Regions from separate parts of the Homo sapiens genome. Here regions 1 and 3 are each linked to region 2. Evidence: fine-mapped expression QTL. A gene starts in region 2. Each other region holds a variant in brackets. All regions are shown on one strand. Distances are from middle to middle.

Region 1 (8,185 bases), 87 kb before region 2:
TGGTTGTGAGGACTAAATGTTAACATAGATATAAATTGTGTAGCACATACTAGGTGCCTAAGAACAGTAGCTACCTGCTTCATTCTTGTTTCCAATACATTATTCTTTTTTTTTTCTTTTTTTGAGACAGCATCTCGCTCTGTCACCAGGCTAGAGTGCAATGGCGCGATCTTGGCTCACTGCAACCTCTGACTCCCTGGTTCAAGTGATTCTCCTGCCTCAGCCTCCCGAGTAGCTGGGATTATAGGCACACAACACCACGCCCAGCTAATTTTTGTATTTTTAGTAGAGATGGGGTTTCACCATGTTGGCCAGCCTGGTCTTGAACTCCTGACCTCGTGATCCGCCCACATTGGCCTCCCAAAGTGCTGGGATTACAGGTGTGAGCTACTGCGCCTGGCCTATTCTTCCTCTCACATGTCCCATGTCAACCTGGGTAACAATGTCCTTTTAAGATTTACAGTGTCTAATTCTACATGAAGAAAATTCTGCATTAGACACTTGTCCCAACTCTTGGACAGAGGCCTGAGTCACCATACCCAGCATCTGCCTGCTGAGAGAAGACAATACTGTATGGCCACGGGGTCCCAGCTAAGTGACGGGTCTGGCGAAGCCAGAGGGGTTGGATGGAGACAGACAACAGCCAGCTTCCTTAATTAGGGATAACCTGTAAGGTTGCTTCCAAGCCTAAGATACAATGATTTTGATTTTTTTTTCTCTGATTATTTCATTGATCCAGATAGACTAGGCAAAGTCTAGAGAGTTCAGCTGACTCACATTGAGCAATGGCTGGGCTGGGATCAGAAGCTCTGGCCTTTGAGCCATCATCACAGAGCTGGAAGAGACCTTGAGCTCATCAAAAACAGAGCCAGCTCCCAGGGGGAATTTCAAATCCATGCATACTACCAAAAAATAAAAAATAAATAAAATAAAATAAAATAAAAAACCACCATGTTCATTTTGAAAGTATTCCTGGATAATTTCCAACTCAAATAGTTTTACTATGTAAATTCCTTTGATAAAATATTTATTTGGCATCTATTCCAGGCAACAAACACACAGTGCTCTCTGAGTTATCTTTGAGCGTATTTGTTTTCTTCCCTAGTGACATTTTCTAATTGGAAATAATGAGTGGGAAGCTCTGGGCAGGGCATCTTGGCATTTGCCTTTGCTGGGTGCCAGCCTGTGTTAAATCTTCAGGCTGCCTGCCAGACACAGAATTGCGACTGGGAATGGAGCTCAGGAAATAGTGCAAAAGGAAACCAGGCAGAGGTCAGAGAGAAGAGGGCTTGAGACTGTAAATAGCATAGTGGTTAAGAGGAGCAGCGGCTGCATCAGACCTTCCCACTGACGCAGGGAGAGGATGAGGAAAGATGGAGATGTGGTGACTGGAGAGGAGGGGCGGATGGAGAGATGGAGGGGGTGTGGGCAGGAAGCAAAGAAGGGAAGCAGGAAGCTTTGGCTGGGCACGGTGGCTCACGCCTGTAATCCCAGTACTTTGGGAGGCCAAGGTGGGCGCATCATCTGAGGTCAGGAGTTCGAGACCAGCCTGGTCAACATTCCTGGTGAAACCCCTTCCCTACTAAAAATACAAAAAAATTAGTGGGGCCTAGTGACGCGTGCTTGTAATCCTAGCTACTGAGGAGGCAGGAGAATTGCTTGAACCCAGGCGGCGGAGGTTGCAGTGAGCCGAGATCATGCCATTGCACTCCAGGTTGGGTGACAAGAGTGAAACTCCATCTCAAAAAAAAAAAAGTAATAATAATAATAATAAGAAGAAGGAAGCTTCTTTGTCAGGGCCAACCCAATAGCATTTGCATTAATCAGGGCCAAACCATGGAAGCAGAACCACTGATTATTATGGACTAAGGTATTTATTATAAGAATGAGATCTTACACAATGCAGTGGGGAAAGTGGGGAAGTAAAGATCTGAAAAGGGGAGGTGAAGAATCACGAGAGTCACTGCTTGGCCTGGCGTGGGTGAACAAGGTGCAGCTTGCAGAAAGCAAGGCAAGACTGGCTGCCGTCAAGGGCCAGGTGACAAGAGGACATAGAGCCTCAAATTTGGGACCACGTTTCTTTTAAGGTATAGTTGAGAGGAAAACTGTCGGAGAGTTTCTGTTCATCAAGACTAAGTTGCAAGTGGTAGAAATTCTAAAACAAACTGACCTAAGTGAGAAAAAAAGAGAGAGTGACTTTTGGGGAAAGCTCTGGGGTAGCTCGAGGAATCAAAAGAACAATTGCCAGATGACGCCAGGAAGAGTCAGACCTGGGAACTCGACACCACAGACCCTTTCCTTGTTTCCATCTCTGTCTCTCACTGCCTCATTTCTTCTTCCTTCTGGCTGGTGGCCTTGTCCTCCCAGCCTTCTCATGTGGCACATGGGGTCATATTGATAAAGCGCCTTGACCAGAAAGGGAAGATACTTTTCCCTACAAGCTTAATTTAGAAAAATCCCTGGCTTGCTTTTTCTTTCTTTCCCTTTGTTTCTTTCTTTTTCTTTTTCTTTCTTTCTTTGTCTTTCTTTCTTTCTTTTTCTTTTTCTTTCTTTCTTTCTTTTTCTTTCTCTCTCTTTCTTTCTTTTCTTCTTTCTTTCCTTCTTCCTTTCTTTCTTGTTCTTCTTTCTTTCCTTCCTTCTTTCTTTCTTCCTTTCTTCCTTCCTTCCTTTCTTTCCTTCCTTCCTTCCGTCTTTCTTTCTTTCTTTCTTTTCTTTCTTTCTTTCTTTCTTTCTGTCTTTCTTTCTTTCTTTCTTTCTTTCTTCTTTTCTCTCTCTCTCTCTCTTTTCAGATTGATCCTTGGATGAATTCCCAGATCAATCACTGTGGCTAGGTGAGTAGGTTGTTATTACGGTTGAATCAGGGTCACATGCCCACCCCTGTGGCCGAAGAAGAGGAGGCCAGGGTCCTTTGATCAGCAGCCTCCTCACAACCAGGTGGAAGAAGAAAGGAGCAGTTCCCCCATGGAAGGAAGTTCTGTCCCCTGAAGAGCAGAAGAAGTGCTGAGCAGACACAAGTCACAGCTGTCCACTCTGGTGTCCCATGGACTGAATGAAATGTTCCTTAAATTCATTGTTCTCATTCTTACCCATTTTCTTTAATGTTATGCCCACTGCAACAAGTTTCTGAGAACATTCAACTGACATTTTAAAGAGAGATGTCACAAAGAAGGAAATACTTTGTAAAGAGTGATGCTTAGTGATCATAATCATCTTAGAGACCTAGAGAGATTGAGTGACTTGCTCGAGGCCACTCAATTATTAAAAAGGAGAAGTAGGACTTTCACAGAATATCCCCATGGAATAAATTAATAGTCTGGTTTATACAGCACTCTGGAGACTTGAGCAACTATGAATCCATCATCCAAGGCTTGATCAGATTGTTTTCCTGGACGATAAAGAGCAGACCAGGGCCAGAGTGATTACTCAGAGGTTAAAGAATAACAGACATTACTCGGAATCTGACTTCAGCATGCAACCAGGCAGAGATGATTCACGAAGTGTGTGTGTGTGTGTGTGTGTGTGTGTGTGTGTGTGCGTGTGAAATCTTCAGTGTGTGTTTAGATTGCTAGGTAAGAAAAGTAATGTAATTGAAGTCATATACATCTTTTCCAGGAAGAAAAAAGGGACTTGAGATTAGGGTTTCAGGTACCTTGAAAAAGATGGGCAATTTAATTGTTCTCTAAGTTGGCCCTTAGTTATCCACTCTAAAGAGAGCTTAAAACATGCCTGCATCTTTAGCTCACAATTTATTTCTCTTCTCCTGTTTGTCTTTTGTACTTTGTCAGTGGTTTCCACATTTGGATGTGCATCAAAATCACTGGTGGAACTTAAACAAAAGCATCCAGTCACCAGCCTGCCCCTGACCCCTACACTCACATTA[C/T]GGGCTCCTTGGAGGATTCTAGTACATAGGTGGGGCAGAAAACATCTCCTCATGCTGCAAAATGCTCTCCGGCATGCAGAGAGACTTTGTGTGCTTTATCTTGCCTGATACCCCACAACGGTGAGGACAAGGCCAGACTGGGAAAATAAGGAGACAGCAGTTAAATGGCGTTCCTAAGGTGAGGCAACTTGTAAGTAGTAGAATTAGGAGGACTAGAACCTAGATTTTGCTCCTAATTCAATCAATAAGGATGACTAGGGCTTGGTCTTGACCAACTGTGGAGGAGTAGCAGGTGAAAGAGGCATAACTAACAAGCATAGGTCTACTTTTGCAAGTAATCAATCAAAGTCATACTCTAAAGTAGCATCTAGAAATTAGCACCTTCCACAGGCCGTGCCCTTCCTAAAATGTACCATCTGTATACTCTTTCCTTGTAGAAGGTGTCTTCCTTTCTTGTTCTGGTAATGACCTTGGGAAAGTTGCTTGACTTCACTGTTCCTTGGTTTCCTCATCTATACAATGAGAGTGTTGGATTTGATTCCTTTCTGCTCTTGTGCTAGATAGTTACATTGGTTCAGTGACAAGCCCTTGGACGTCATGTGATTGCAAAGGGCTAAAAAAGAGCCCTCTGTATTCTAAGTGTCTGTTGATGCTTTGTCCAGTGGACAAAGCCTTTCAGGTTGCAACGTGGCGTAAGAAAAAGCTTAAAATGAGGCTGGGTGTTGTGGCTCACACCTGTAATGCCAGCGCTTTGGGAGGTCGAGGCGGGTGGATCACTAGGTCAAGAGATCGAGACTATCCTGGCCAGCATGGTGAAATCTCGTCTCTACTAAAAATACAAAAATTAGCTGTGTGTGGTGGTGTGTGTCTGTAGTCCCAGCTACTTAGGAGGCTGAGGCAGAAAAATCGCTTGAACTCAGGAGGTGGAGGTTGCAGTGAGCCAAGATCACACCACTGCACTCCAGCCTGGTGACAGAGCGAGACTCTGTCTCAAAAAAAAAGAAAAAGCTTAAAATGAGATAATCCCTGGAAAAGGTGGATTGTGACTCAGACTCATTCAAGTAAAAAATGAAAATGATTGACAGCAAAGGAAGGGGGAAGTGTTCAGAAAATAAAGTAGGAAGGCTGCAGATCTGTGAAGGCGAATGGGGAGATGGGGCTGAAGAACACCCTCAGGGGCTGGAGTTGACCAAAAGAGGGGTGGCAGCAGCAATGTCTGATTAATTTCAGTTTTGCCTGAGGTGGGTTGGCCCTACATGGATTATTGGATGGAAACTGGACTCTGAGCCCCTACTTCTGCCCCAGCCCATCTGGAAGGTTTTGAGACCCTTTTCCCCAAATTTTCTACTACTGAAAGCCCCATAAGGCTGAAATAGACACTAGTGTCCTAAATGGATAAAACATTGATGTTGGCCCTTGCCCACGCTGGCTGCAAGAGCTGGAAGAAGGAACCTGGAAGCTAAAAAGGGAATAGAAAGAAAGACACAAACTCATAAGAATAGTGTCAGGAAGATTAAAGTCACTACAGAGAGGGGCCTTACAAACCGTGGGCAGGGCAATAAAGAGGCCTATTAGGTGAAGTTCAGGACAAGAAGATGGACTAGTCCCATAGCTTGGGAAACAGCACAGTGATAACAAATCACAGAGACAGAGGAGCCATTCAGCTTCTAAGTGCTTATTCTTTTCCACTATTTGAGACACAGGCAAGTCTCTGAATACCCAGCTGAGCTTAGGGCCTGGCACATAGTAGGGGTACAATAAGTTTGCTCAATGAATGAAGAATGAATGGGAGGAGGCTGAAGAGAAGAAGGCTCTTCAAGCTCAACAACGAGCCCAAGGTGTTTGAAAAGGTCCTAAGAGGCATCTTTGCTGTCAACTCAATCCAAGTCAGAAGCAAAAGATCATTGTGCCAACAGTCATTGTGGTAGTGGGTTTCTTAGGAAACTACTGAGATAGAGGTTGTGTGCAAGAAGCTTATTGAGGAATGCCCTTGGGACCCACACCTATGGGGGAGTGAAGAGAGTGCAAGGGCAGAGGGATGGGTTGAACTGTGGTGTAGATGCAACAGAGGTCTCAGGCCAAACCCATGGGACAACTCTTCACAGTTGGCCCACCTTGAGACAAGGGTGTAGGAGGTTAGGTTATACTTCCTCATCAACCAGTCAATGGACACGGGCTTCACCCCTGGAGGAAACGTGAACTTGGAACACCTGAGAACTGGCAGCAGCCAACCAACACTGCCAACAGTTGAGGGAATGAGTGACTGGATCTTGAAGATGGGATGTGTGGGCTCACCACAGCACCATGGCATCCACTGCAATAATTAATCCAACTTCCTTATTTGACAGATAAAAAATGTCCAGAGATGAAATCATATAGCTGGTGAAGAGCAGAGCCAGGACATTTCTCAAATGGTCACTAGCAAATTCCCTTAGTGGACTTGGAATTTGGTAGAGGATTCAATAAATCCATCAATATGGATAAGAAGGAGAAATGGTGATTAGATCAATGGTTCCCAAACCTAGCTGTCATCAGCATCACATGGAGGGATGTTAGAATACAGATTCCGGGGCTCCATTTTCAGCAATGCTATTACTCGGGGGTCTGGGGCAAGGCCTGTGAGTCTGTACTTTTTTGTAAGTACCAGGTTATTCTTATGTGGCCTGTCTCTCACCCTGCACTTGGGAACAAGTGGCTAAGATCATAGAACACTGGTCAGATACTAGATTTTTAAACAATCTACACTTACAGACTATTACTGAATGATGTTGCTCTGGAAAATCTCAGGTGGGTGCATGGAGGCTCATTCCTGAGTTCTGTCTTATTCAAAAACTTCAACCCTAAAAAAAAGGCTGGGCGTGGTGGCTCATACCTGTAATCCCAGCACTTTGGGAGGCTTAGGTGGGTGGATCACCTGAAGTCAGGAGTTCAAGACCAGCCTGACCAACATGGTGAAACCCCATCTCTACTAAAAATACAAAATTAGCTGGGCATGGTGGCACACACCTGTAATCCCAGCTACTTGGGAGGCTGAGGCAGGAGGATCACTTGAACCTGAGAGGTGGAGGTTGCAGTGAGCTGAGATTGCACCATTGCACTCCAGTCTGGGCAACAAGAGCGAAATTCCATCTCAAAAAAAAAGAAAAATTACCAACACTCAAAGACATTAATAGGCTATAAATCCACTGAAGATAATCCCCAAACTAGAAGAGATTGCTAGTACTTTGGAGCTCAAATCAGTATTTCAACAGATTTCAACATGTAGCTTGAAGTATCATGTTGTAGGTTGATATTTCTTGACATTAAAGTTGTTCGTGATGTCTTAAATGAAAGGAAGCAGCAGAGAGGCAGTGGGATATGATGGTTTAGAGCACAGATGGTTTAGAGCATGGATCCTAATGGACTGCCCAGGTTCAAATCCCAGCCCCATTGCTTGCTCACTTGCACCTCAGGTTCCTCATCTGTAAAGTGGGGATAATAATATAAAATCATAGTACTTACTGCATCAGGTTAATGTAAGGGTTATGTGAGTTAATATGTATTTAAAAATTATAACCGCCGAGCACATAGTAAGCACGATGTAATACTATTTTTCTGTGTAGTTGTTTCAGTCATCAATTGCTGTTTTAGCAAACTATCCCAAAATTTAGTGGCTTAAAATGACAATTTACTACTTCCCATGATTCTGTGGATTGTTCTGTATCACTTGGTACTGACTGGGGCTCTGGGGCAGCTCACATTTGGTACTGGGACCATCTGGAGCTTTACTGGCGTTCTCAGCCACAGGATTCCATTCTCCTCCATGTGCGCCTCTTCACATGGCTAGTGAGTCCTCCTCACATGGTGGCTGGGCTCCGAGAGATGAAGGCAGAAGTTGAGGTCTCTCAAGACCCAGCCTTGGAAGCTACCCAGTGTTACTTCCACTTCAATCTATTGGTACAGATTAGTCTCAGGCCCAGCCTGGATACACAGGGAGTGGAAACAGACCCCACCGTTCAGTGCGGGGAGTGGCAAAGAATTAGGAGTCATTTTTAATTTACCACAGATGCTTAATCCCACTTGTGTGTGTGTGTGTGTGTGTGTGTGTGTTCATGTGTACGTGTGTCTGTGTGTTCATGTCTGCATGTGAGTGTGTGTGTGAGAGAGAGAGAGAGAGAGAATGTGTGTACGCATAGAAAATGCCTGGAAGAATATATACCAAAATGTGAACAATACTTATCTTGAAGAGGTAAGGTTACAATATGGTTGTTGTTCTCTTCTTTATCTTTGCATGTTTTGCTTTTTCTCCCCTGAATTTTCCATGAT
Region 2 (8,185 bases):
CTGTCGCCCAGGCTAAAGTACAGTGGCATGATCTAGGCTTACTGCAACCTCTGTCTCCCAGGTTCAAGCAATTCTCGTGCCTCAACCTCCCGAGTAGCTGGGATTACAGGCGGGTGCCATAACGCTCGGCTAATTTTTGTATTTTTAGTAGAGGCAGGTTTTCGTCATGTTGGCCAGGCTGGTCTCAAACTCCTGACCTCAAGTGATCTGCCTGACTCAGCCTCCCAACGTGTTGGGATTACAGGTGTGAGCCACCACACTCAGCCAAGTGTGGATGATTTGGCTCACCCTATCTGAAAAATTTTAAGGTTATAAGCCCTGGAGCATTTTATATAAAATAATTATTGACATGAATATAGAAGAGAACATCCATATATATTTCCATTTTTTGTTTGAAGTTAAAGCTGACAACAGTCAGAATGCATGACTCTTTTGGGCTGCTGATTTCAAGCCTGCAACTGTTTCCTAGCAATGTAGGGGGCCTGTGCCAAGTCATTGAAGGTTATTGCTGGTAGGGTTTCTCCCTAGACAGGAAATAGTTCACTGGAGCTTTAGTGCAGAAACCAACACAGGTAGGTAAAATGTTTTTATAATTGCCACTAGGAAAAAGAGAGGGCCCAGGGGGTACTCTTCTGCCCAAGGGAACCTCTCCCTGGTTATAACCTAATTTGTTGTGTGTATGTGGACTAGATGGGTGGAATTCAACCTTCTAAGGTATTGTGGTTATATTGCTTTCAAATGACTGGCGATTCCAAGAAATGTAAGAAATCCTCTTTCTTTTTCAAAGGACCATTCTCTTGTGGTTCAAATGTGGGCTTTTGAAACAGAAACAATAATGTCTGTGGCTATAGGGTGGGGTCTGTTCATTTCCCTCTTTTCTCTATTGGAGTGTACATGAAGGTGTTGAAATTGTTGGCTTCATGTTTGTGTTTTGATAAAGATGGCTCTAAGGTAGCAGGATAGGGGACTAGAAGCTAACTAGTCATTGAAGAAGATCCTTGTTTTCCACAGAACAGTCTACCCTGGAGAACTGGCTGTTCCAATCTTCCTGTTACAGTCATTCAGAGCATTCATACATCTCTCTGTCCATGGTGCAATAAAATAGGCTATGGAACAATCTCAGGAGGCTTCCTAAGTGGTTGAAAGGAGGCAGGGCAAAAAAATTGTAGTATAGGCAAGAGGAAGGTAAAACTAACTAAAACGAACTTCGAAATGCAAGAAATAAACACAAGCATCATCTGAAATTGTTCCCTTAAGAAGTCAGCCCTAACAGTTTCTTATCTATTATAGCAGCTGAATTATCTTGAAACTGATATTGTGGTCAGAAAGTTAAGAAGATAACCCCTCTCCTACACTCTTGGCACAAAACCAGGGCATATCTATACCTGGAACATAATGTGTTGTACTGTTGGTTGAGTTTCAAGAAAAGTCCAATGAGGTTGGAAGCAGTTAATATGAGGATATCTGAAAAGATCAAGGAGATTAGGTATTCCCTACTCCTTCCATAAGGAGGTACTGAAATGGCAGAATTCTGCAATGAGAGATGGTGATCAGCAAGCCGAGGGGACAGGCCTCAGAAGAAACCAGACCTCCCCACACTTTGATCTCTGATCTTGGCCTTCAGAACTTCGAGAAAATAAGTTTCTGTTGTTTAAGCCACCCAGTTTGCAGTATTTTGTTATGGCAGCTCTAGCTGACTAACACACATGAGAACACATATGATCAAATGATTTAAAATTATGAAGGGTCTAGAAGAGAATGTGATCATCTCAGAATACCTCTAAGTCAGGGTTTCTTAAAGCAAGGTCTGCATACTACTTGCATCAGAATCACCTATGACGCTTTTTAAAAAGCAGGTTCTCAGGTCCACTGGACCTAGATTATTAAAATGTTCTGGTATGATGCTGAAGAATCTGTCTCTTTGGTAGACACTTCAAGTGTTGTTTTTGTACACTAAAGAGCCAGAGGTCCTGCCCAACCTCTGGCTCTTTTCTGAGCCTGAAAATGAATTCTGGGCCTGGTACTAATTGCATTTCATCAAGTGCTGCTGTGTCTGGTCCTCTGGCAGATGGTCCCTGATCCAGGAATCACGTGTAAATCCCATTGTAGGTTATCTCTCTCCAGGTGTCAGCCAACGTTTACGCAGCATGTGGGAAAGCTGAATTGCATGGACCAGATGGAATCCTTAGAGTTTATTCTTGATTGTGGAAATAAATATGTACCTCACCTATCTTACTGAAGAATATAATGACATATTTTGAATAATAAAGTATATATATTATCTCTCTCATGAGATTTATTTAAAGATCTTACTACCTTGTCAATAAAGAGAGAATGCAAGGAATAGAATGGGGCATATCTTTCCTTCACCTGTGGACCTAAGAGGAACTGAAATTAGAGAAAGTTGAGAGTCCAGAGCAAACGCTGTGATGAACATTTTCAAAATAGGCAGAATAGGTGGCATTCTGATTCAAATATGGCAGTTCCCTAGGGAGTGTGAAATCTGCCCTGCCCCATCCCCTCCATTTACAAATGTGCTTAAGGGACATAAGGTTTTATAAACAGGATTTTTAAAAACTAAAATTTAGGCAGATCATTTAAGAATGCTCAAGGGGGTAGGTCAATGGACTATTTCTCTATTTTCCTTCAGGTGGTCCAGCCTTTGAACCAGAATGCAGCTATAGTATCCCAAGTGACGGGGTCTGTCTAGGAGTTCCCATGGCCACTGTTTTTTGTCTTTTCGGTTTTTCTTTTTATGGCGGGCGGGGGAGGGCGGGCGGGTGAGTACTTACTTAATGCCAGGCACTTGGTTGTTTTTTCCTTCTTGACTAACCAGATTTCAGTTTCTCTGTGTAGACCATTCATTCCCACTGAGTTTCTTGGTGGGGTGGTGGGGGCGGGGGCGATGAATGGGAAAGTGGAATTGCCATTAATGTTCCAGCTGCTTTCCTGAAACAAGACTTTTGACCGTAAAAAGAATGAATTTGAAACTCTAGACAATAATACACTGCAGAGGTTAAGAAGAAAAGCCATGAGTGCAACCGGGTTTCATTAAGAATGAAAAGTGGACATTTAGCCGTCAAGGAGACAGGTTCCTAGTTTGGGCAGAGAAGAGAGCCCTAACAATGAAAGGCGGCCGTGTTGGCTGAAAGGGGGCTCTCAACTGAAACCAAGGCACTCCTGGGGTGTGAGGATGGGTGTTCATTCCTAGATCTTTCCGAGCGGCCCTTTCCCTCAGTATGTTCTGGACTCACTGAGGTCCTGGCCGAGCGTCCAGGTAGCCCCGAGGGCCCCGACTCGCTGGCGCAGGGGTAGGGGGAGCGGGCCAGGCGGGGCAAGCGGGCCAGGCAGCGGCGGCGGCGCTTTCATTAGAGGGCGCTGTGGGAGCGGCTCCGCCGCAGTCCCGACTCCCGCCGCTTCCTCCCGCCGCCCCTCCCCGCCAGTCCGGGCGAACGCGGCCGGGCCCTTGGGGACCGAGTCTCGGCGCCGCCGGGGAACGGGCGCGGGCCGCGCCACAGCCGGAGCGGGGCAGGGCCCCGCCACCGCCTTCTTCCGCCGGCCCCGCCGCCGGCCATGCATTCTTCCGGCTCCTCTGACTCCCAAAGCCCCGGCTGGGGCCCGGCCAGCCCGAGGTAACCTCCGGCTCCGCGGTCGCAGGCCCCAGAGCGGCAGCGGAGCCGGGCCAGGGGAGGCGCTGGGGGCGGGGAAGGGGGTGTCGTCGTCGCGTGGCCCGGGGAGGCGGCAGCGGCCTGAGGGACGAGGGCGCGGTAGGCCCCGGGGAGGAGGCGGGGGCGCGGGGCATCCGCCCGCCTCCCCGGGACCCGCCCGGGTGACAGGTCCGGCCTCTGAGTCCCCGCCGTCCCTCTGTCCGCAGGCAGCCGCGAGGGGAGTAGGGCGCCAGCGCGCCCGCTCGCGCAGCGCCTCGGGCCGCTTGGGCCGCCACCGCGTCCATGACCGCGACCCCTCGGCGGGGGACACCCGCCCCCGCTCTCCGCAGCCGCCCGCCGTCCGCGCCCGCCGAGGTGAGCCCGGCGCGCGGGCCGCGCCCGCCGCCACGACCCTTCCACATCCGCGGAAACCGCTGCAGGCTCCACCGGCTCCCCGCGCTGCGGTCGCCTCTTCTCTGCCCCTTTCATCATCCCCTGCTTCCTTGCCCTCTGGTCGGAAATCTCATTCTCTTCATCCCCAGTTCCTTGGCTTTTACCTCTTTCTGGCTTTTGCTCCCTTCCCCCTACTCCTGTCCTTCCTCTTTTTCGCATTATAACCCCCTACTTTCTTCCTCTCACCTTGTAAGCTTTTTTTCTAGGCCCCCCATTTTTTTTCTTAAAAAAAAAAGGGAAACAAAAACCCTATTGCTACAAATGAGAATTTTGAGGGTAACTCTTCGCTAGAGCCAGAGACCTTTTAAAGGAATGCATCGGTGTGCAGGAATCGTGGTGGTGAGGAGACTGAGGTCCTCAGTATCTGGGAAATCTTATTGAGGGGACCCTGTTTCGGTCATGTCACTTGTGTCTTCAGTTTGGAGATCCTGAGGTTGTCTGAAGCGAGTGGATCTATTTTTCTAAGTCCAATAGACGACCGCAGTGAGACACGGTGCGGGGACGGCCACCGATTACTGAATGGGAATTGTGTTATCATTTGCTAAATATATTGTGACATACTTCGTGCCTCGGTGAACAGCTCCCTTGACCTTGTGCGGCTCCTCCTCCCTCGCTCTCTGTCCCCCTCTGGAATTTCCCCTGAGAGATCACCGAGGTACTACACCCGGAAAGCTTCGACCCTCGCTGTTTTATTTTGTGCTGGGGGCGATTTCTATGTTGGTGACTGTTTAGATGTATTTAATGAATTTTCCTTTTTAAGTGAATTTTTCTTTCACCCCAGAAAGACAGGACGGAGTCCAGTGTGAGAATGGCTATAACTTTGGAAGAAGCTCCGTGGCTGGGCTGGCTCTTGGTGAAAGCACTGATGAGGTTTGCCTTCATGGTCGTCAACAACCTGGTTGCTATTCCATCCTACATCTGCTATGTAATTATACTTCAGCCCCTTCGAGTGCTGGACAGTAAGCGGTTCTGGTATATCGAAGGAATCATGTATAAATGGCTTTTAGGAATGGTAGCTTCCTGGGGATGGTATGCTGGATATACAGGTAAGAGTGAGAACACTTTTCTTTAATGCATAAGAAAAAATTTGTCAGGAACCATGATTAAATGTATATTACACTTTGGGTTGAGGATGCTTTCATGTCTTCACTATTGAAAAAAATAAAAAGAAAACAGTTCTATTGGGTTTCTCTTCAGAATCTCAGGAAGACCAATGTTTTCAGAAGTATAATTTCATAATTATGTATTGGTAAATTTCTTAGTGTTTTTATTGTGATTGACATACATTTATTAAAACTGGTCTGCAAAAGCTCTGGTAGAGGAATAGGAGTGCGTTGTATAGGACTCGAGAGCTTATAAAGTGAAGATGTAAGATATTTCATCTATTTCATGGAAGATGCCCATAAACATTGGAAATTTAGAAAAAGAATGGGACCATATTTGTGCTAAGATAGTTTAATAAGTTTCTTCATCATTTAACGTGATATTGTACTGTTAGCCTTTTGAGCAAGCAAAAATGGCTTTCTTTTCTCTTACGTATGTTTCTTTTGTTTATTAGAATCTATATTTTATCTCATAAATCTGAGAGTATTAAATATAAAAAATTAAGTTAACTTTGTTAAGCTAATTTATCTTCTGAGTGTCTTTAAATAGATTGTGATTTCTGCCTTTAAATTGCATTTGGGGAAGCAAGAGTAACACTATTCAGAAGTGGACTTTTATAGAACTAAATGAGAAGTGTTTATTTTCTGAGATAAACCTTATATGCTTTGAGAACTTATGCCCTTGCTGTGAAAATTCTGTATCGTTTATTGTATTTATTTGATTTTTTTCCCTTAAGAATTAAGATAATGAAAAAATCATAGAGGTTTTTAGCACTTGTCAGATGTGGAGGCTTTTAGCACAGAAATTCCTACCTGATAGGCAGGCTCCTTGAAGATCATGCAGATGCTGTGGTCAGTAGAGGCTGTAGTTCATAGCTTGGCAGAGTGAGGAGGGGTACTCCCAGGGTCAAGCAGTATGGCAGTTCTCCATCTGAAATTCTGTCTCCCTCTTTCCTGCCTAGGCTGCACCTGCACATTTTATCCACACACGCAAGAGAAGGACTGATAGTATACAGCTTTTATGGAGTCTGACAGACCCTTGCTATGTCTGAGTATTCTCAGTTGCCCCAGATGAAGCCTTTTCTCCTTCAGGCAGTGGCATTTATTTATTTATTTCTCCTTCAGGCAGTGGCATAATAATGCAAGAGCTGAAGCCCCTGGGATAGTGTATGCGTTGCTTCCTTGTCATCTGTCTTGTTGAGATTCCAATGCTTTTTGGATATAGTAGGTGTGCTTCTAGCCCTTTTTTAGGACTTGGTGGTAGCAATAGCAGTGGTAGAGAAAAAACGAAGTTCTAATCTATGGTGCTGAATTCTTACCTGAATTGCACTGCTGTCTTAGAGTTGCTTGGCTTGGTATAGTTTGAGTGTTCCCAAATATATGTTATATGGTACTAGTGGCTTTATTCTTGTATAGTATACTTAAGTTTGCTTGTTTTAAATTAGCTTATAGTATTTTCAGAAACCCGTTCTAGAAGTTCATTCTGCTTAAAATGAAATTACTGAAATGTTTGTGCGTGTGTATAGTGTATTTAATTGTTAGCATGGTGGGAAGGTAAAATTAATTTGGCATTGACCTTGAGATTGGGAGTGCAGTGGTGCTGCTTGAAGTCAAAGTTAGTTGTCCTATGGCCATAGCATAGCTGCAATGTATTTTTCAGCATATTTTCTTGGGGTATCTCTTCCTTGCTGACTATAGAACTGTGTAATTTCTTTTGCCACCTGCTTGGAATGTGGTCTTGGCATGATCTGCATATTTTAGTCTCTCTGAAGCATCTGCTCTTCTTCAGGCTACTGAATTTTGACAATTTGATCAGTTTGTCTCATTTAAATATAGACTGTTTTAATGTATATATTTTAAAAGGTTTTCCTATAGGTAGAATACTTGATTTCAGAGAGCCTGGTCATAGTCTGATCATAAAAGAAAATAGTCAAGAAGTCAAACAAATGTAGGAATGAATTTGGTTGAAAGCCTCAGCTGAGTTTAAAGAAGCACATCTAAGCAGAGGTTGATGAACAGGTGTACCCATAAAATAATGTCAGGTGTTATATTAGCCTTTCTTTAGATAATATATTTCACTTCTTCCCTTTACATCAATAGGAGGGTGGGCTTGTGAAGAAGTTCTTTTTTCCCTATGCCCAAGTTTCACAGATGGAAAATTGAACATTGCCAAAGGAATTCTGCTCAGCAGATTAAGTATGTTCATGTTTTAGAATAAAAATTGCCAAAACTTTGTTGAGAAACCACTTATGAGGAAACCTTAAATACTAATTAGGAAGCTAAAAATTGAATATTGGTATATTGGTATAGAATGAATATATATATATATATATATCTTTTTCCAAATTATGACATTCCGTGTAATATGAGTGAATTACTCAGCTCTGCTGATGAGGACTTATGTTGATTATCTAACCTACACAGCCCCATATAGTAGCCACTGGCTGCATGTCACTGTTTAAATTTAAATTAATTAAAATGAAATAAAATTTAGCATTTAGCTCCTCAGGCACACCAACCACATTTCAAGTGCTCAGTACTAGGTGGCTAGTGGCTACTGTATGGACAGTGCAGATACAGAACACTTCTATCATCACAGCAAGTACTACTGGACAAAGCTGATATAGTAAGCATGGTTTTCTTTTCTTAGGAAAACTAAATTTTATTTTTATTAAAAAATCTTTCCTTAGTTCTAAACAGATTTTTTTTGTGAAAGACAAGAAGATTTATTAAAGTTTTATTAAACTATCTCTTAACTCATCACAAAAATGAGCCCTGTAAATTCATACATGCTTCTTGGATGAGTAATGGTGAGGCCAGTAAGCCCAAGAACTTAAATGAACATTCTTATACTTTAGTTTGCATTCTCAGAGCTGGGGAACTGTCTGTAGGCACAGAAGATGGAAAAGGGATTTTCTGGTCTGTTTCTGACTTTAAGTTACACATTTTAAAAAGTACTCTGAAGACACTGGGGTTTGTTCA
Region 3 (8,185 bases), 25 kb before region 2:
TTCAGGTGTCTAATGGCCCTTGCTTTTGCTAGAATGTCTCCCCCTAACAAGGGAGTGGGGCTTTCAGGCATAATTGGAAAAGCATGTGAAAAGAGTAAAGTTCTCCATTTACAACTTAGTGGCTGGGAGAAGTATCTAGTGACTGGCTGTCCTAGGACCCCTCGGATAGTGACAGATCTGGAGGACAGTTGTCCGGGACAGGAGAGTAAGACTGAGAAGGCCACGCCAGTGTCCAGGAGACAGTTAACCTCCTGGCCCTCAATGGTCAAGCATACCCAGGGCTCTGTGAGGGTGATGGCATGGGCTGGCGCTTGCCCTGGGCACCCTCAGTCCTGCTGCTGGATCATCTGGTTAGTGGCTTCTGACTCAGAGGACCTTCGTCCCCTAGGGCAGTGGGCCTTCCAGTGATTCCCTTGACATAAGGGGCATGGACGAGGGGGCGGCTTACTTCTACTTGGACAATTTTTTTAAAGTGCCCTTGTAGACCACACTGGAAGCAAGCCCTGTTAGGCATTTGATTTGCCCAGCTTTTCCCTTTCCCAGAGCCTCCAAAGTCTGCTTGCCTGAGGGCCATGACTAAAGCGATGGCCTTTTCTTTATCCCGTTTGTCCCGTTCCGCCTGCTCCTCCTGATCTCTATTATAAAAAACCAAGGTTGCCAAGTTCAATAGGGTTTCTAAGTTTTGCTCCGGGCCTAAGGTGGACTTTTGAAGTTTTTTTCCCAATGTCTGCAGCTGACTGAGTGATAAACTTATCCTTTAGGATTAGTTGGCCTTCAATAGAGTCAGGTGACAGGGAGATATGCTTCCTCAATGCCTCCCTTAGTCTCTCCAGAAAGGCAGTAGGATTTTCTTCCTTTCCCTGTGTTATAATGGACATCATTGAATAATTTGTAGGCTTAGGCCCAACAAGGACTCCAAAAAATTGTTAAGGACCTAAAATCGCAAGGCCTAGTAAAACCATGCAATAGCCCCTGCAATACTCCAATTTTAGTAGTACAGAAACCCAACGGACAGTGAAGGTTAGTGCAAGATCTCAGGATTATCAGTGAGGCCGTTGTCCCTCTATACCCAGCTGTCCCTAATCGTTATACTCTGCTCTCCCAAATACCAGAGGAAGCAGAGTGGTTTACAGTCCTGGACCTTAAGGATGCCTTTTTCTGCATCCCTGTACATCCTGACTCTCAATTCTTGTTTGCCTTTGAAGATCCTTCAAACCCAACGTCTCAACTCACCTGGACTGTTTTACCCCAAGGATTCAGGGATATCCCCCATCTATGTGGCCAAGAATTAGCCCAAGACTTGAGCCAGTTTTCGTACCTGGACACTCTTGTCCTTCGGTTCATGGATGATTTACTTTTAGCCGCCTGTTCAGAAACCTTGTGCCATCAAGCCAGCCAAGCACTCTTCAATTTCCTCGCCACCTGTGGCTACAGGTTTCCAAACCAAAGGCTCAGCTCTGCTCACAACAGGTTAAATACTTACAGCTAAAATTATCCAAAGGCACCAGGGCCCTCAGTGAGGAACGTATCCAGCCTATACTGGCTTATCCTCATCCCAAAACCCTACTAACTGTTGGATGTGCCTCCCCCTGCACTTCAGGCCATACATTTCAATCCCTGTACCTGAACAATGGAACAACTCCAGCACAAAAATAAACACTACTTCCGTTTTAGTAGGACCTCTTGTTTCCAATCTGGAAATAACCCATACCTCAAACCTCATCTCTATAAAATTTAGCAATACTATAGATAGAACCAACTCCCAATGCATAAGGTGGGTAACTCCTCCCACAGGAATAGTCTGCTTATCCTCAGGAATATTTTTTGTCTGTGGTACCTCAGCCTATCGTTTGAATGGCTCTTCAGAATCTATGTGCTTCCTCTCATTCTTAGTGCCCGCATGACCATCTACACTGAACAAGATTTATACAATCATGTTGCACCTAAGCCCTGCAACAAAAGAGTGCCCATTCTTCCTTTTGTTATCGGAGCAGGAGTGCTAGGCGGACTAGGTACTGGCATTGGTGGTACCACAACCTCTACTCAGTTCTACTACAAACTATCTCAAGAACTAAATGATGACATGGAACGGGTCACCAATTCCCTGGTCACCTTGCAAGATCAACTTAACTCCCTAGCAGCAGTAGTCCTTCAAAATCAAAGAGCTTTAGACTTGCTAACTGCCAAAAGAGAGGGAACCTGTTTATTTTTAGGGGAAGAATGCTGTTATTATGTTAATCAATCCGGAATCGTCACCGAGAGAAAGTTAACGAAATTCGAGATCGAATACAATGTAGAGCAGAGGAGCTTCAAAACACTGGACCTGGGGCCTCCTCAGCCGATGGATGCCCTGGATTCTCCCCTTCTTAGGACCTCTAGCAGCTATAATATTGCTACTCCTCTTTGGACCGTGTGTCTTTAACCTCCTTGTTAAGTTTGTCTCTTCCAGAATCGAAGCTGTGCAACTACAAATGGTTCTTCAAATGGAGCTCCAGATGCAGTCCACGACTAAGATCTACTGCGGACCCCTGGACCGGCCTGCTAGCCCATGCTCCGATGTTAATGACATCGAAGGCACCCCTCCCAAGGAAATCTCAACTGCACAGCCCCTACTATGCCCCAATTCAGCAGGAAGCAGTTAGAGCAGTCGTTGGCCAACCTCCCCAACAGCACTTGGGTTTTCCTGTTGAGAGGGGGAACTGAGAGACAGGACTAGCTGGATTTCCTAGGCCGACTAAGAATCCCTAGCCTAGCTCACACCCAACCAATCAGATAGTAAAGGGAGCTCACTAAAATGCGAATTAGGCAAAAACAGTAGGTAAAGAAATAGCCAATCATCTGTTGCCTGAGAGCATGGCGGGAGGGACAATGATTGGGATATAAACCCAGGCATTCGAGCCGGCAACGGCTACCCTCTTTGGGTCCCCTCCCTTTGTATGGGAGCTCTGTTTTCACTCTATTAAATCTTGCAACTGAAAAAAAAAAAATTCCTTACCATTTCCTGACCATTTAGTAAGGTAATATTTTCATCTGACTTTAAGTTGCATTTCCATTTCATCTGACTTTAGATTGCATGCCCTAATTATGGAATTCTGAAATTTGTGAATTTAATCTTTTCACTCTATCCTTACCATTGCGATTTTATGGGAGGTAGCCAGAAAGAGTTTATTCAGAGTTCATCAGACCTAGGGTTAAATCCTAGTTGTATCATTTGTTAGCTGTTTGGTGTTAAGCAAATTATTTAGTTCTGTTCTTTTGTCTGCAAAATGGTGGTAGCAAAAACATTCCTCTCTGGTTGGTGTGAGGTAATATGTAATAGTGGTATGGAAGTGCTGGGAAGGGAAGAGCATGGACCCTTTAAAGGATATGGAATGGG[C/T]GTGGGGGAAGGGAAGTGCTAGGTAGAGGAGGGCTTCGTCCCTGGCTAGGGCTCCACCCCCATGGACCTAAGTGAGGACAGGCATTTCCTGCCCAAATGTTGCATTTCCCAAGACCACCCTGGCCTGCCACAACCCCATCCTGTGCCTATAAAAACTCCCGAGACCCTAGCAGGCAGACACAGGCGGCAGGATATCAAGAGGAGCACGTCAGTGGAAGAAGACACAAGTGGCTGGATGGTGAAAAGATGTCAAGGGGAGCATGCTGGCAGAAGAGCACATCAATAGATGTTGGCATGCCGATAGGCCATCGACAGGCGGGATGAGAAGGAGGTTTGCCTGGGGCAGTTGGAGGAGATCTGGGGCTGCCCAGCGGCCAGACTCCAGGGGAAAACCATCTCCCTTCTGGCTCCCCCATCAGCTGAGAGCTACTTCCATTCAATAAAACCTTGCACTCATTCTCCAAGCCCACGTGTGATCCAATTCATCCAGTACACCAAGGCAAGAACCCAGGATACAGAAAGCCCTCTGTCCTTGAGACAAGTTAGAGGGTCTAATTGAGCCGGTTAACACAAGCCGCCTATAGGTGGCAAAACTAAAAGAGCACCCTGTAACACACACCCACTGGGGCTTCAGCTGTAAACATTCACTGCTGGACACTGCCTTGAGGTTGGAGCCCCACAGCCTGCCCGTCTGTATGCTCCCCTAGAAGTTTGTGCAGTGGTGCACTGAAGAAGCAAGCCACACTCCCATCGCACGCCCTGCAAGGGGGACAAGGGAATTCCCATTTCAACAGTGGCTGGCATAAAGCTAGTACTCAATAAATGCTAGCTTCTTTAAGACTTAAATCATATTCTTCTTCAGTCTTTGAACTTTTTCAGGTAAATGAATGACTGAATTCCAAGAGAAATATATAGTCTGCAATGCAGTAGGTACACTGAGGCAGCTGGCTAAAAATTTTACAGGGAAATTTAAGTGATATGATAAAATATAAATTGCAGTTCATGGATAAGTATATTTTAGGATTAAACAAAAAATAAGTGAATATTTCCAAACACACCATTGAAGAGGAAGCTTACACATTGTAAAATGTGTGATGTAAGGAATTAAGTGGTTTCTACTAGCTTCAAAATACCATCATTAACTGATTTAGTTATGTCATATGACATAACTGACATATGCATTAACTGATTTAGTCATGTCATATGAAACATCACATAGATTACCTGTATTAACCATGAAATAAATGTTATGATCCAGAGTTACTAAGAATGAAATGGTTGGGGGGAAAGGTGGGAAACTGCATAAGTTATTAATAAATATGAAGGTGTGTTGTGGTTTTGAATGTAATAGCAGCTGTGGTTAATATGTGATCATATTCTAAAGTAATTAGGCAATGGTTAAATAAGCCCCTTAACAAATTACAATCAATCAGAACATTCAGGAGAGAAGTCTTGTTTTTTTGACTACTTTAGATTCTGAGGCCTCTTGGAGCAGAAAGTGGCAAGTCAAATATCTCTCGAAGTAGTCAAATATTTCTTAAGTGTGGTTTGTCTCTCCAAGAAGATATCATGTGGATATCATGTGTCTCCAGAGACAACACTCTGAAAAGGACATCATTTATGTATGATTCCAGTCAGAAATGCATAACCTGAATCTAATCAACAGACAACATCAGCCAAACACACAATAAGAGATGGTGCATAAAAGAATTGGCTTTTATTCTTTAAAATATGTCAATGTCATAAAGAACAAAGATAGACTGAGACACGGTTCCAGACTGAAGGAGAAAAAAGGCATGTTATTGTAAATATAAGATGTGATCCTGGATTGAATCCTGTACGGGAAAAAAAAGTAGCTATAAAAGGCATTATTGAGACAATCAATAAAATTGGAATATGTGTTATATATTAGATATAGGTATTTTATTAATGTTAAATTCACTGAATTTAATAACTGAACAGTGGTTATGTAAAGAGAATATCCTTATTCTTAGGAAATATACACTGAAGTTTTAAAGGCTATAGAGATGATATGCAACCTACTCTCAAATAATTTAGGAAAACATTTTTATAGACAGAGACAAACATTGATAAAGCAAATATAGCAAAATATTTAAAATTGATGAATCTTAGTAAAGCATATGTGAAAAATTTGGGGTTGTTTTTCCAACTTTTCTGTAAATTTGAGATTATATCAAAATTAAAAGTTAATTTTAAAAAGTATCCATGAATCACCTGAATCAGAATACTGGAGTATTTGCTACAGATGCAGATTCATGGGACCTGCCACTGACTACTGAATCAGAAATTCAGGGAGTGTGGACAGGAGAGGTTAGAGCCTGGAAATTTTCATTTACAAAAACATTCTTGGTGATTTTAATGTATACTAAAGTTTGAAAAACATTGGGAGTGTACTTCAATTAAAAATCAGTTGTGGTGTGGTGGCTCACACCTGTAATCCCAGCACTTTGGGAGGCTGAGGTGGGCAGATCACGTGAGGTCAGGAGTTCAAGACCAGCCTACCCAATATGGTGAAACACCATCTCTACTGAAAATACAAAAATTAGCTGGGTGTGGTGACACACACCTGCAGTCCCAGCTACTTGGGAAGTTGAGGCAAGAGAATTGCTTGAACGCGGGAGGCGGAGGCTTCAGTGAGCTGAGATTGCACCACTGCACTCCAGCCTGGGCAACACAGCGAGATTCTGTCTCAAAAAAAAAAAAATCAGTTATAATGTGGCTGGGTACAGTGGCTGACGCCTGTAATCCCTGCACTTTGGGAGGCCGAGGAGGGAGGATCCCTTGAGCCCAGAAGTTCAAGACCAGCCTGGGCAACACAGAGAGACCCTGTCTCAGAAACAAACGAAAGAATCATAATTATAATGCTTTCACTGGCCAATGCATTTTCTTTTCTTTTTGAAAAAGATTTTAAAACTTGAAACCTTTTAAACTTTATTCCATTTCTTATCTTTTAAATTTTTTATCTTAAAAAGAAAAAAAAATTTTCTAATTGTCCACCTGCCCTCCTTCAAGCCAATGCATTTTCTTAGCTTAATCAACTAAATGCCTTGAAGAATACTACTACTAGCTAAAATGTATCATGTGTTTATCATGTGGTAAGAACGATATATATTTTATTCAATTCTTGCAATAATTCCTATGAATTGCTATAATTATACTCCTTACAGTTAAGGAAATGGGATTACATACATTGCCAAGGTCATATAGCTATTAAGGGATAAAGCCAGGATTGGAACCCAAGGACAATCTGACTCTAGGGCCATACTTTTGCCACTCTGCTTTTGAGCCTTGCTAGGAAACCACATGGTAAGGTTATTGGCTTTGGCTATCATAAAATTGACATGTTATTTATCTCTTTTAAAGTCAGCCTTTAATTGCATATTAAGGAAGGAAGGAGTGGTGCAGCTAATACAATGAACATTATGATAGGCATAAAATTCCCCCTGCTAATCTTCCATCCTGGTGACAAAGCCTTGGCTCTGTGACTAAGATAAGGCTATACAGCCTGTTGTTTCTTCCTGAGCACTACTATGATTTTCCCATTGCAGAACCTTAGATACTCTTCAGCCTGCAGGTACCAAGCTGGGTGAGATATGGGTATACCTTCTTTAGAGATCCACCCTTGGCACTGGAGGATTTCTTCAATGAGGTAGAATGTCATCACAGTTTTAAACTAGGAAAGGAATTGTCCCCGATGAAACCCAGGAAGTGACTTGACTAAAATAAAAAGTAAGCATTGCCCAGGGTACAGCTCAGCCTCTTTTGGTACCTCCATTCTTCTGAGGTGCAGTTCTCTGCAACAGTCATTCCACAGAGAAAAGCCTGAGGTAGCTCACTGGACTTTCAACAATAAGCCTGTGAATTGAGTTGGGTGAGCATTAGTCTCACTGATAATATGGATAGATTTGGATTGAAAACCAGCCTCCCAATTCCACAAGCCAAGCTCTTCCATAAACCACAATGCCTCCTGAATAAAAGAGATCAATACTGAAAGTTTGTTGGAATCATGACCTCATGTGCTTTCATGTGTTTGTGCAGATTGATAAGTGCAACCCTTGCAGTAAAAAGTAAAAACGTGTTTTTTCAGCGGTGGCCAGCTGAAATGTAATATATAAAGAGTTAGTAATAATTTTTGTTGAGAGATTCATCTTTTCTAATGAGAAAAATGAAAAGCTTTCGGCAAAAAACACACCACTATTTTGAAAAGATTGATGAAGCACCCCCAGCTTAGCCCCACGACAGCACAGTTGTTGTAATCCTCCATAAGAACCTTCAGGTTGCAGGTGACATAATCTTATATAAAAAATCCTAAGAAATCCACTTAAAAACCATGAGCACTAATAAATGAGTTCAGCAAAGTTGAAGGATACAAGATTAATATACATAAATTAATTATATTTCCATATGCTTGCTATGAAAACTGTGAAAATGAAATTAGGAAACCAATTCTATATACAACAGCATCAAGAAGACTAAAATACTTAGGAATAAATTTAATAAAAGAAGTATAAAACCTGTACTCTGAAAACTACAAAATATTGTTAAAGAAGACAAAAGAATGAAAAGACTTAATATTGTTAAGATGGCAATACTCCCCAGGGCACTATAGATATAACACAATCCTTATCATAATTCCATCTGGCCTCTACAGAAATCAACAAGCTGATCCTAAAATTAATATGGTAATTCAAGGGACCCAGAATAGCTAAACAATCTTGAAGAAGAAGAATAAATTTGGAGGACTCACACATCCTGATTTAAAACTTACTATGAAGCTACAGTAATCAA

The links.
Region 1: its variant is fine-mapped to the expression of LPGAT1 in whole blood (INTERVAL, PIP above 0.99).
Region 3: its variant is fine-mapped to the expression of LPGAT1 in lung (TOPMed, PIP 0.95).

What each region holds. Positions count from the first base shown.
Region 1 is chr1:211,913,403-211,921,587 of GRCh38, reverse strand. No RefSeq gene overlaps it. Among named protein-coding and RNA genes, the nearest start is that of LPGAT1-AS1, 87 kb to the right of the region's middle. RefSeq lists an enhancer at 4,775-4,944. The variant C/T (reference allele first, on the strand shown) is at 3,881.
Region 2 is chr1:211,826,020-211,834,204 of GRCh38, reverse strand. It overlaps LPGAT1 (lysophosphatidylglycerol acyltransferase 1), which reads left to right and starts at 3,442. Exons shown (of 8, transcript NM_014873.3): 1 at 3,442-3,632; 2 at 4,882-5,146. The coding sequence starts at 4,909. LPGAT1-AS1 (LPGAT1 antisense RNA 1) reads right to left here and starts at 3,244. Exons shown (of 6, transcript NR_135820.1): 1 at 3,165-3,244; 2 at 2,793-2,949. RefSeq lists a silencer at 3,258-4,017.
Region 3 is chr1:211,850,588-211,858,772 of GRCh38, reverse strand. LPGAT1-AS1 (LPGAT1 antisense RNA 1) reads right to left here. Exons shown (of 6, transcript NR_135820.1): 4 at 7,167-7,252; 5 at 7,001-7,070; 6 at 5,070-5,211. Among named protein-coding and RNA genes, the nearest start is that of LPGAT1-AS1, 24 kb to the right of the region's middle. RefSeq lists a silencer at 3,365-3,544. The variant C/T (reference allele first, on the strand shown) is at 3,377.